3 separate regions of the Homo sapiens genome follow, and regions 1 and 2 are each reported to be linked to region 3. The links are microRNA targets in miRTarBase. Many come from high-throughput screens and were not tested one by one. Region 3 holds a microRNA gene; each other region holds the end of a gene's coding sequence.
Evidence for each region. Region 3 holds the annotated microRNA hsa-miR-219a-1-3p (AGAGUUGAGUCUGGACGUCCCG, at 1,258-1,279, opposite strand). A microRNA usually pairs through its seed, bases 2 to 8, with sites in the 3' UTR of a target mRNA and lowers its output. Matches are read on the target gene's strand: a 7mer-m8 pairs with bases 2 to 8, a 7mer-A1 pairs with bases 2 to 7 and ends in A, and an 8mer does both.

Region 1 (4,000 bases), not on the chromosome of region 3:
CCCACCAAGCAGACCCAGACTTTCACCACCTACTCGGACAACCAGCCTGGGGTCTTCATCCAGGTGTATGAGGGTGAGAGGGCCATGACCAAGGACAACAACCTGCTGGGGCGTTTTGAACTCAGTGGCATCCCTCCTGCCCCACGTGGAGTCCCCCAGATAGAGGTGACTTTTGACATTGATGCTAATGGCATCCTGAGCGTGACAGCCACTGACAGGAGCACAGGTAAGGCTAACAAGATCACCATCACCAATGACAAGGGCCGGCTGAGCAAGGAGGAGGTGGAGAGGATGGTTCATGAAGCCGAGCAGTACAAGGCTGAGGATGAGGCCCAGAGGGACAGAGTGGCTGCCAAAAACTCGCTGGAGGCCCATGTCTTCCATGTGAAAGGTTCTTTGCAAGAGGAAAGCCTTAGGGACAAGATTCCCGAAGAGGACAGGCGCAAAATGCAAGACAAGTGTCGGGAAGTCCTTGCCTGGCTGGAGCACAACCAGCTGGCAGAGAAGGAGGAGTATGAGCATCAGAAGAGGGAGCTGGAGCAAATCTGTCGCCCCATCTTCTCCAGGCTCTATGGGGGGCCTGGTGTCCCTGGGGGCAGCAGTTGTGGCACTCAAGCCCGCCAGGGGGACCCCAGCACCGGCCCCATCATTGAGGAGGTTGATTGAATGGCCCTTCGTGATAAGTCAGCTGTGACTGTCAGGGCTATGCTATGGGCCTTCTAGACTGTCTTCTATGATCCTGCCCTTCAGAGATGAACTTTCCCTCCAAAGCTAGAACTTTCTTCCCAGGATAACTGAAGTCTTTTGACTTTTTGCGGGGAGGGCGGTTCATCCTCTTCTGCTTCAAATAAAAAGTCATTAATTTATTAAAACTTGTGTGGCACTTTAACATTGCTTTCACCTATATTTTGTGTACTTTGTTACTTGCATGTATGAATTTTGTTATGTAAAATATAGTTATAGACCTAAATAAGCTTTTAAAACTCCTTCTTGTTTTTCATTCCAACCAATCGAAGTACAAAAGTACCCAAAGGCTTTCAGAAGCAGAAAATGTTGGGGTGGGTGCTGAAGGAGGAATGTGAAGAATATTCCTGAGACCGTGTACATGATTCCTATAGGGGAAGGCAGGATTTGGAAAAGAATTTGAGGCCAATACATTGGAACAGTACTGAAGAGTTAGGGCTGGTAAAGAGGAGAGGATTGAGACTTACAATGCAGGAAGAGAGAGGGAGAGATGTGGAATTGGAAAAGCAGAGAATGAAGAGAAACTTAAGTACTGGCAGTGTTTCCATGTGTGATCCTATGATTCAAATTCTGTATTTTTGTCATAGGAACCTGGTTGAGTTTGTCAGTCTAGCTGTTTTAATAACACTAACAAATAGTTTACATGCTTATTAGCTGTTTGTAATCATGTCACTTTATCCATTGTTCTTTTAGAGAAAAGACTCTGAGTCCTGGACTCTGGAGGATGGTATATGTCAGAGGAAGTAGATCTGGTGGTACGATTAAAGTTACTATTGACTTTATCTATGTCAGAGAAATAGTATGATCCCATGTGGTTTCTGCCCATGGCATAATGAGGATGTTGGAACAAGACTCTATAGATTTTCAGCCCTGCCACTTTATATACTGTGCAAATTAAACTCTCCAAGCTTCAGTTTCCCCTTCCCTGCAGTGGGGATGATGATGATGATAACAGTACCAACCTCCAGACTGTTGTGAGGGTTCAATTAATTAATATATGTAAGAGGCAAAGAAGAAAGGTGTATAATATACTATCAACAAACATTAGCAATTACTATTAATTGTTAGTTGGGTGATAACTATGTATCAGGTACTTGACATACACAATCTAACTTAATCTTCACAGCAGCATTATGGAATACTATCTTCTTTTTGAAGATGAGCATTATGAGGTTCAAAGAGGTTAAACAATTTATTCAAAGACACAAAGCTATAAAGTGGGGACAGGAAGGCTGGAATGAAGAACCCTGTCCTGCCTGAGTCTAGAGCCTCAGCATGCCACCTTACAAATAGGCCATAACTCCACTTATTACCAGACCTTCCCCTAGATGTTTTGAAATTGGTCATATTATTCCTTTGAAACACAGCTGGATGCTGAGCCCCGTGAGAAAAAGTGTGCATTTTATTGTATACTTGCAGAGACAGAGTCTTGCTCTGTCGCCTAAGCTGGAGTGCAAAGGTGCGATCTCAACTCACTGCAACCTCTGCCTCCCGGGTTCAACCGATTCTCCTGCCTCAGCCTCCCCAGTAGCTGGGATTACAGTTGCCTGCCATCACACCCAGCTAAGTTTTGTATTTTTAGTAGAGATGGGGTTTCACCATGTTGGTCAAGCTGGTCTCAGACTCGTGACCTCAGGTGATCTGCCCACCTCAGCCTCCCAAAGTGCTGGGATTACAGGTGTGAGCCACCACGCCTAGCTAGTTGTGTGTTTTTTATAGCAAGTGACGGAATCTGCAAAATATCCTTAGGCACAACTTTACTGCCAGTTGAGTCAATGACAATATAAAAGCAAGGATATTTGCCTTTGCTTTGTTGGTGTAAACAAAATAATCAAAAGGATAAACTTGTGTTAGTTCCCAGTCAATCCAATCCAGAGTATATTTGCCCTATGGGCATTGGGAGATTTATTTTTATCTCAGAAATTATGGGAGAGCTTGGCTAGAACAATGCTACATTATACATTATATTTCTTAGGTTGATTTTTTAAAGACGGAGAGAAGGTTACACTAACAACTCACTTGTCCCTGGCTGTCATTTCACATTTTTAACTGCCCTCTTTTCCTGGCCCTGGCCCAAGTCTTACGCAGCCTGGCTTCACATGGAAGGAACCTGAAAAAAAAAAAAAAGAGAGAGAGAGATGGAGTAACACGTACATCCTGCATTACATTCTTCCTTTCCTGAATCTCATCTCAATTCTCAACATTGACCCCCCTCAACCTGTTTGAACTTCTCAAGAGGATTGATAGTACTCACTTTTTTATAGTTTCTTAGTATTTTGATAGTATGCCTTTTATCCTTTTAAAAAACCCAACACACACAGAATATAAGAAGAAAGATTTTTATCGTGTTTAGTTGTGACATCTCAGATCCTCCCATTTGAGTGCAATCTATTTTTCTATAGAGAAATATAAACAAACTTTATTTACTTTTAAACGTCTGTTGATCATTTTGGTTTAGTTTCTTTGGGGACTGTTTCTTGTATACTAGGTATCTAAAAATCCTTATATTGTATGTAGTCTTAGTTTGATTATTGTAATCACAACTATGTCACCCAGTTCCAAAGGGGGGGAAAAAAGTTTGAACAAATTAAATCAGAACACATGCCCATTATTAAAAAAATCAATTCTTGGTACAAGCAGTTTCTTGCCCCCTTCCCAGGTCCTACTCCTCACAGGCAACCACTTTCAAGTTGTTGGTTTTTTAAAAGAATTTTTGATTTTGCAATAATTTTAGATGAACAGACAAGTTGCAAAGATACTACATAAAGTCATTACTCTATATCCTTTCTACTTCCCCTAATGTTAAAACCTTACATAACCATGTTATATTTATCAAACCTAAGAAATTGGCATTGGTATAACATTAATGACTAACTGTAGATTTTATTCATGTTACTTTTTTTTTTTTTGGACACAGGGTCTCACTCTGTACGCCAGGCTGGAGTGCAGCCTGGAGTCAGCCGATCTCGGCTCACAAAAACCTCTGCCCCCTGGGCTCAAGAGATTCGCCTCAGGCTCCCGGAGTAGCTGGGACTACAGGCGCGAACCCCGGGTACTTGGGAGGCTGAGGCACGAGAACCGCGTGGACCGGGAAGACGGAGGCTGCAGTGAGCCAAGATTGAGCCACTGTGCTTCAGCCTGGGGTACAGAGTGAGACCCTGTCTAAAAAAAAAAAAAAAAAAAAAAAGGCTGGGGAGCGGGGCAAGGCGGTGGGAGAACCTGATCCTTACCAAAGTTTGACACTACTGCGTTAGCG
Region 2 (4,000 bases), not on the chromosome of region 3:
AAGTTTTCTGCAGAGATACAATATTGCTGGGAATTTTGAGCCTCAGCTGTGCACCAGAAGGATATAAACTAGGTGACATCTAGGAGGCTGAAGAGTGGGATTATTAAAATGAAAGTAAACACTGTCTTTAAGAAAAACTACAAGGGATATAGTCTGCCTATGGAATGTCAAAAATTGTACATCATCAGTTGTTTAAACTTCATGACTTTGCAACATTCCAGTGTCACAAGGTCAGGTGTTTATTCACTGCTTGTGCAGTCAGCACACATTGACTTTGCGTTCGTATCAGAATGTGACACTCCATTTGGTTGGGGTCTGTTTTAAACCTTTACATTTATCTTCCTGAGAAGGAACCATATGTCCAGTTTTTCTGTAACCAAATATCAAAAGACACAGGTGGAACAATTTTATGTCTAAGAATTTCATGAAGAGTGTTTGGAATAATGTAAAAAACTTTTCTTTCCTTTTCAAAGTTCTTTTAGTTGACAAATAATAATTGTACATATTTGTGGGGTACATAGTCACTGCATGTTTTGATACATATATGGTGATGAGATCAGAGTAATTAGCAAGAATCACCTTTGAATTCATATGATCCATACTCTCAGGACATCTGTAGCCTGCGGCTGCTAGAATGACCATCACATTCTTTTCCTTCATGTAGAAGAGAAAAAGCGCCATTGAATTCCCCCTTTGCCTACTATGAAAGCAAAACTTGCAAGTAAGAGGGGAAGGTGTGCATGAGATAAGAGAGCAGAGTTGGGACAACTTTTGTAGGGGCATACAGTCTTCTGGGCTTCTGTGGCTTTGGAAGCCTGTGCCTGAGAATGTTTGAGAGCCCCGGCTTTCTTAAGGGCTCTCTGGGCTGATATTTAGAAGAGATGCTCAGATTTCAAGGGTAGAAGGGAAGAGATTTAGAGTCATTTGTGGCTACTTTTCATGGTCTAGTAGTGCGGCTGTAAGTCATTTCATCATATCTTGATTTCTTGTCCACTTAACAAAAATAAAATGTAGCTAAAGAGTTTACTAAACCTTTGATAAAAATATTATGAATATGAAAAAAATTATGAATTATAACTTCTAGATTTAAGGACAATGAAATTTAAGAAAAAAAAATCCCCACCCATCACTTTAATCCCTTAGATCCAGGTTAAGGCACCCAGCCTGATAGTGAATGTCTGTTGACAACAACTTCTTTGTATTTGAAGACAGTATTGACTACAGATGGTACCAAGGAGTCAAAGTCATGGCAGGCTATCTTGGGAGAAATCTTCCTCATGAAGCAAATTTTCCATTTAAAGATGAAGCATGAAAATCAACATCTATTTTATAGAAAATAGGAAATATTTAATATATATAAATTTATTTGCCTTGGCAATTATTTATTTACAATTGATGATTGATATCAACAATTGAGGTAAAAATATACATGAGGTATAAATATAATATTTAAATGCAATATCATACTTTATTTCCATTGGCAAGATAACAATGAATAAAATACTGTGGTATTTGACAAACAAGCTTGATGCATCGTTTTTTCTCCTTTTTTTCCCTTTTCCTTGTTTTAAAAAGATGCACTGTGTTGTTATGCAGCGGTGATATGATTACTATGTGCACAAAAACAAAAAAGTCAGATAATTCGAAGAGAGGGAGAATCAGAAATACAATCACATTTGTTCTTATTCTGTTTTAGGGATCTTCTAGGTCCTCGTTTCTGAGTGTGGTTTTAGGCCAGCAGCATAGGCATCCCTGAGACTCCTTAGAAATGCAGAATCTCAGGCCCAGCCCAGATTACTTGGAGCAGAGTCTGCAGTTTCACAAGATCCCCAGGCAATTCATGTGCATGTGAAATCTGGACAAGCACCTCTCTGGGCGATACAAAGCCACTCATCCTCGTGTGCCTATCACGTTTTCCAAACACATAGGATCCCATCTCAGGAGCAGGACCAGTGTTTAGCTAGATTAAACTTCACTGGTGATCTTGTTGATGCATATAAAGTAATCTGGCATATATGGTTAAATTCAAGATGTTATGGCAGAAGTGACTTTGTTTTGCTCACAAAGCATTGCCCAAAAGGTAAATTATGGATTTACTGCTTCCTTCTTAGGTAGATATGGGAATGAAAAATTTCTAGGTCATAATTCAAACTGTAAGATTTTCCTCGCACCATACCAAACTCATAGAAAGCTTTTTTATTCCTCTCAATAAAATAATTGCACATTGCTGATAACAGAAACATTACATAAATGCATATAATGCAAAAAAACCTGAAAACACTCATTTGCTTTTCTTTTTTTCTCCAACACCAGTTGCTAAATCTTATCAATCTCTATTATGGATGACCAAAGAAAATCTCTCTCCCTGAAATCAAACACACAATAAGTTATCTTTCTCTCTATAGCTGTTGAATTACAATAAAAAGCACATTCGATCCATTAGCAGTTGGCTAAAGGGAGTCAATTCGCTTCATCTGTACAATAATAAATAAGGTTGGGTCAAATGCATAGGTAGCTTGGACTGGCTAGTGAAGAAACACAGAAGAATTAATAAACCCGATTATACTATCTAAAACTAATCAAAGAACATAGTTTTGGTCTCATGTTAGTTAAAAACCCTGTCTTTCAGATTGTAAAAGTTTAATGAATTACATTTTAAGAGTATCCTACACATAACAAAATATGAATTCCCTGAAGCTGTAACGATCTAGGATTTGAACGGAATGGCCATCATCTCCCTTTGTATGGTGTCTGGAGTTGAATTCAGTGCAATAAGAAAACACCAATTAACTGTGACCAAATAGGCCACTGGTCAAATAGAATGACATTTAATAACATTATGAAATGTATTTATAAAAACTTGAGACAACACAGGGGCTCCCTTTGGCTGTGAAGAAGTAAAGGCTATGATATTCATCTTGACTTGGGGTCTGTAGTGATGGGCATGGGAGCGAGAGGTATCGCTTCTGTTTCAGTCACTCTCGCTGACTCCGGTGGTCCATATCTCACTGAAATTCCATCTTACTGGGCCCAGTGGCAACTCCTCATCTAGCTTTAAATTTGGTAATGACTTCTCACCCCCCCATTTGCTTTAAGGAGGAGTAATTATTATTTCCTTGCTTTATCCCAGATCTCCACTCTCAGTTTTTGAATAGCAGAAACAAAGCGTTAACACATAAGTCTCCTTTAATGTTATTTTCCTTTGGTTAACTCATCTTTGGTTAGGCATCAGGGCATGTTCACACCTTGGTGTTAGCAGCAGGTTCTGCACAGCTTACAGGACAGTGGAGAGATGGGGCCCAGAGCCACTTGGAAAGAACTGTGTGAGGAAGGGACTCACTGAGTCAGACACCGTCATTTTCAAAACACACAATTCTATATAAAATTGGTATTTTACATATATACAGTAAAGATGGAGATATACACACATATGTACATATGCTATACATACATTTATTTACAGTTAGGTATACGCTTCTTAGAAGCCTTTAAATAGCAAATTAGGCAATGCACAAGGAATAGTCCATTTAATTTTAAGTAATATATATAAAGTTCTCATTTTAAAATTATATTAGTAGGGATGTAGCCATCTCCAGGAAGGCTAAGAAAGTTCTTGGAAATTCTTGCATCTCCAACATTCCAACTTCTTAACGTTTCCATTTTTAGGCATTAACCGCGTCCTTCAGTTCCTCTTTCTCTCGCTTTCTCACATGCACACTCTCTGCCACACTCGTCACTTTAGCTTCCTCTTCCCTGAGTTTGATGTCACACTGGGCAAAACTCAGATTTTAGTTTCTGGGCCCTCAGCAATGAGGGGCTGGAAAGAGTTTCTAATCCTGGCAACTTCTGCTGCACACAGATGTCCAAAGCCTTTGCTGTACCATTCTGGGGAGTGACCTCTGTGGGGAAAGAAATCAGAAAGGAAGTGGGAAAGTTTGTTTCCAAATCACAGCAATTAGTTTTGGTGGACAGGGCTGCCCTTGGGCCCCGATGACCAGTG
Region 3 (4,000 bases):
GACTTATGACACTGAATGAGGAACAGGGAAGGTAATTTTTGTGTTTGTGATCTTTCAAATGAAGATAATAATACTTGTTCCACCTCTCTGGCAGGGCTGTTTTGAGGATTAAATGAGCTAAATGCGAAAGTGCTTTGGAAAGATTAAGGTGATTCAAAGGTAGGGCCAGGCAAGGCAGAATAGAGCAAATTACGGAAAAGAAGCTGTGTGATGCGGTCTGTGGATATAAGGGTTTGGGGGAGGGGGTAAGCCTGAAAGGGAGAATGCCTGTCACCTGCGGGGTCCGGTGCAGCTCATACAGACTCAGTTCCCACGTTTTGCTGGCATTCTGGGCATTCGCCGGCGTCGTCATGGTGACCGGGCGCAGACCCCCCACCAGGGCTCCACAGCCGAGGAGAAGGCGAAGAAGGCTGGGGGTGGGGGGAAGGGGAGGAGGGCGTCAGGGGGGCCGCCCCTCGCGTAGACCCCGCCCCTCCAGAAGCGCCCCTCTCCGCCCCCGCTCCCGCCCCCGCGCCGGCACTGCCCCTCACCCAGCTCCAGCCGTTCGCGCTCCCGCCGCCGCCGCGCCTCTCCCTAGGCCCGGGCTCCTGGGCCAAGTTCGCTCGGTCCGCAACCGCTGCTCAGACAGCAGCTCCCGCCACCGCCGCCGCCATGGCCCGGGCGCTGGGGCCCTACGTCACTTCCGCCTGCTCCTCCGCTACACCCGCTCCCCCCGCCGGCGGAGACGTCACCCACCATTCGCGGCGCGGGTGGGACGGGACGTGGACGCCGCGGTTCTCCCGCCCACGGGACGGGCTCGTCCCGCGTGAGGATCCTGCGTCCCGGGAGTTCTGCGCCACTTAGGGAACCACGGTCTCCGCCCCCGGCCCAGCACCGTCGCGCGGCCAACAACCTTAGCCTCGGTTCCCTTCCAGAGGCCCCCACGCGGGGCCTCAGCTCCGGGGGGCCGGGGCCTGGAATATCTGGGACCCCAGGAGGGGACAGAGGGCTCGTGAAAAGGGCTACCTCCCCCACTCTGCGTACCCTGGCGACTCTGGGGATCAACCCCCCTCACTTCTCCGTAACCCCCATTCCAGGATCCCGGGGGAAAAGGCTGCAAAAGATCTGCCGCTTTAGCCTTCTAGTCCTGAGAACACACCTAGGTCCCGATGTGCCCGGGATTCCCCTTACCACCCTGGGGACTCCCTCCACCCTCTGCTTTGGCTCTCCCTAGACCCTCCGACCCGCTCTCCCGCTCGAGGTTTGGGGGCGGCGGCTCGGGACGTCCAGACTCAACTCTCGGCCGGAGCCATAGACTCGAGAATTGCGTTTGGACAATCAGGAGCCGCGGCCCGGGGCGGGGAAGGGAGGGAGGCGCACGGGAGGAAAGGGGGAATGGAGACACCACGCGGAAACAGGGACATACACAAGATGGAGCTCCCATTGGGAAGGGGGGGTGCGCGTGTGGGTGGGGTACACAGGGGCAGAATGTCTGGAGTGGGAAGTGGGCAGAAGCCTCTTCGAGGACTCTAGAGTAAACGAAGGGGATGGGGAGGAAAGAGAAGAGGAAGGGGCAGAGCGATCCCCATTGAGTGTAGGGAATGAGAGGGATACAGGGCGAGGGGGTGGGGGGCAGTTAGAGACCCTGATGGGCATCTTGTCCCCGCCCGAGCTGAGGCTCCCGGACTTGGGCTGCGGCTGCCAGGGGGTGGCCTGTCCCTGGGACAAGGCAGCAGTGGGTGCCCTCGCCCCCCACCCCAGTTCCCCCCTACTTCCCTGTCCTCTCCTTCAGTCCGTGGCCAGTCCTTATGTGGGCGCCAGAGTCGATTAGCGCAGACCCCCCTCCCCTTCCTCCTCCTCTTCCCAGCCCCCTCCCTCCTGCTCTCTCCAGCCCCTTTCATCGGCTGGTTCATTCCCCTAATCCTGGCCCCCTCCCCTAATCCCCCCCATCCGACCCCAGGCCGGCTGCAGCTATTGTAAGGTGGAGAGAAAGGGGAGGGGGGGACTCAGAGAAAGGAGAGGGGTGGGGGAGGGCCACCTGTTCCAAGACCCCCTTTCAAGGCCAGACTGGACACCAAGATGGGGCCATGAACAAATCACCCTTGGGGACCATAAGAACCCAGGGAGTTGGGGGGAGGGGACTGGTGCTGCAGAACCAGTGGAAAGGGGTGACGCACGAACCCCTCCCTTCAAAAAGACCCGGAGTGTCACGCATACACAGTGACACATACTCTTTCCTCTCACACCCGGCGGCGGGGGTTGCCCTGGGAGACCAGGCAGAGAAAGGGAACAATCCTTCGGGAAAGGGAAAGGAGGGGGAGGTGGGGAAGGGTCTGAGGGCTTGGACACAAGAAGAGCCGGAGGTGGCAGGGAAGAGGACTTGGAATTTATTAGGGTCACAAGCACCCCTGCTTCCCATATTCAGCATTCCTGAACCATACACTGCCACCCCTTTTGTATCCTGGGAACTTAGAGTCCTCATCAGCAGGAGGCCAGGCAGAGTGGTGGGGGGGTGAGCAGAGTCCAGGGTCCTTGAGGCAGTTACATGAAAAGACCTCCTGGGAGGGGCAGAAACATTTGGACAGATGCATGGGTGGAGACACAAATGGGCTAGGGGGTACCCACTTCTGTCCCTGGCCTTGGGAACCTCTGCCCTTCCCAGTGGCTCCAGACTCCCCTTACTTGCTTTCTCATATAGTCTGGGTTCTACTTCTCTGCCCTCTCCCTCCCCATGCTGGCCTCATACCAGTGACTTCCACTGAGGTCCCTGTGATGTATCCACTATCTTCAGATGCCAAGAATGCGACCACATCTGCCACATCTATGAGAATGGTGGGGAGAGGGCAGAATTCTGCTCACTCCCATAGACCCAAAACAGCCATAATCTCCCACCAAAGACATCCCTCCCCACAAACCTCTCCACAGACACCAACCACCAGTCCCCTAGAAAATCCCCAAACTTTGGGGATCTCTTCATTCAGGCCCCCTTCCCAGGGACCCCACTACATTCAGTGCTCACCCTCAGGGTCCCCCAAGTGTCCCATCGGGATCATTTCAGTAATCTGTAAGGAAATACTCATGTGGGTGAAAGCTTCTTTTATGGATTTTTTTGAAGACTGAGTCTGTGACCCTTTTTTGTCTTCATTTCTCATACATTCATTGAATATTTAATGTTTGCCAGGAACTGTGCCCAGTATTCTCTCTCTCTCTCTCTCTCTCTCTCTGTGAAGCCCAGAGAGATTGAGTCTCTGAATGATTCTGCCCTCCACCCACAGCCTCCTACCTTGTCCACCACTTTCTGTGGCACTTTCTGTGTCATGGGTGTTGCAATGAACCCTGGGAGGACAGAGTTACAGCGGATCCCATGTCTGTGGGAAGGAGAGTGGCTGCCGATTCTGGAGAGGGCTGAATGCTGGTACCTCCCTCAGACCCCCCAGGTGCTCCCCAGCACCCTCAAGCATCTGACCAACCGTCCAAGCTCCCGGGCTGCGGTCTGGGTCAGCCCAATCACTCCAGCCTTGGATGCTGCATAGTTTGTCTGCCCCACGTTCCCCACCTATAGGTGAGTCAGAGATGTGGAATGAGTCAGGAGTCTCAAGGAGGGGTTCTCCTCTCTATACCACTTGGCTGGCTGACCTCGTCCAACTCAACCTGACCTTTCCTACGATGCTACTGATGTTGATGATGGAACCACGACAACCATTGGACACCAGGGCTTGTGCTGCAGCCTGAGTGACTAGGAAGGTGCCCTGGCGGGAAAGGGTAACAAGGGAGAAAAGATCAGCTGGGGTGACAGCCCTCCTCCAACTCCCTCCCCAGGCTAAGGGGGCCAAACGTCGCAGGTTCAGAGATCGCCACCTTGAGGTTGACAGCTATGACTTTGTCCCAGTCATCCTCAGACATGTGCAGCAGAAACTCATCCTGGGTGATGCCCGCACAGGACACAACGACAGATGGTGGGCGAGAAAAGCAGGCCTATGGGAGGGGGAGGTTACGCATCAAAAACCCCCCACAAAAAGCC

Region 1: the mRNA of HSPA6 is a reported target of hsa-miR-219a-1-3p. The part of its 3' UTR that is shown has no 7-base or 8-base seed match.
Region 2: miRTarBase lists STARD13 as a target of hsa-miR-219a-1-3p. Seed matches in the 3' UTR shown: 7mer-m8 at 2,755-2,761.

Annotation. Positions count from the first base shown.
Region 1 is chr1:161,525,925-161,529,924 of GRCh38, forward strand. HSPA6 (heat shock protein family A (Hsp70) member 6) reads left to right here. Exons shown (of 1, transcript NM_002155.5): 1 at 1-970. The coding sequence ends at 666. Among named protein-coding and RNA genes, the nearest start is that of TRL-CAG1-6, 2.5 kb to the right of the region's middle.
Region 2 is chr13:33,101,812-33,105,811 of GRCh38, forward strand. STARD13 (StAR related lipid transfer domain containing 13) reads right to left here. Exons shown (of 14, transcript NM_178006.4): 14 at 1,326-3,899. The coding sequence ends at 3,782. Among named protein-coding and RNA genes, the nearest start is that of KL, 87 kb to the left of the region's middle.
Region 3 is chr6:33,205,175-33,209,174 of GRCh38, reverse strand. MIR219A1 (microRNA 219a-1) reads right to left here and starts at 1,340; the gene lies at 1,231-1,340. It overlaps HSD17B8 (hydroxysteroid 17-beta dehydrogenase 8), which reads right to left. Exons shown (of 9, transcript NM_014234.5): 3 at 3,838-3,954; 4 at 3,636-3,728; 5 at 3,450-3,535; 6 at 3,263-3,347; 7 at 2,999-3,041; 8 at 2,726-2,800; 9 at 2,344-2,537. The coding sequence ends at 2,521. It overlaps RING1 (ring finger protein 1), which reads right to left and starts at 675. Exons shown (of 7, transcript NM_002931.4): 1 at 531-675; 2 at 275-410. The coding sequence starts at 352. RefSeq lists enhancers at 2,927-3,807, 3,808-4,000.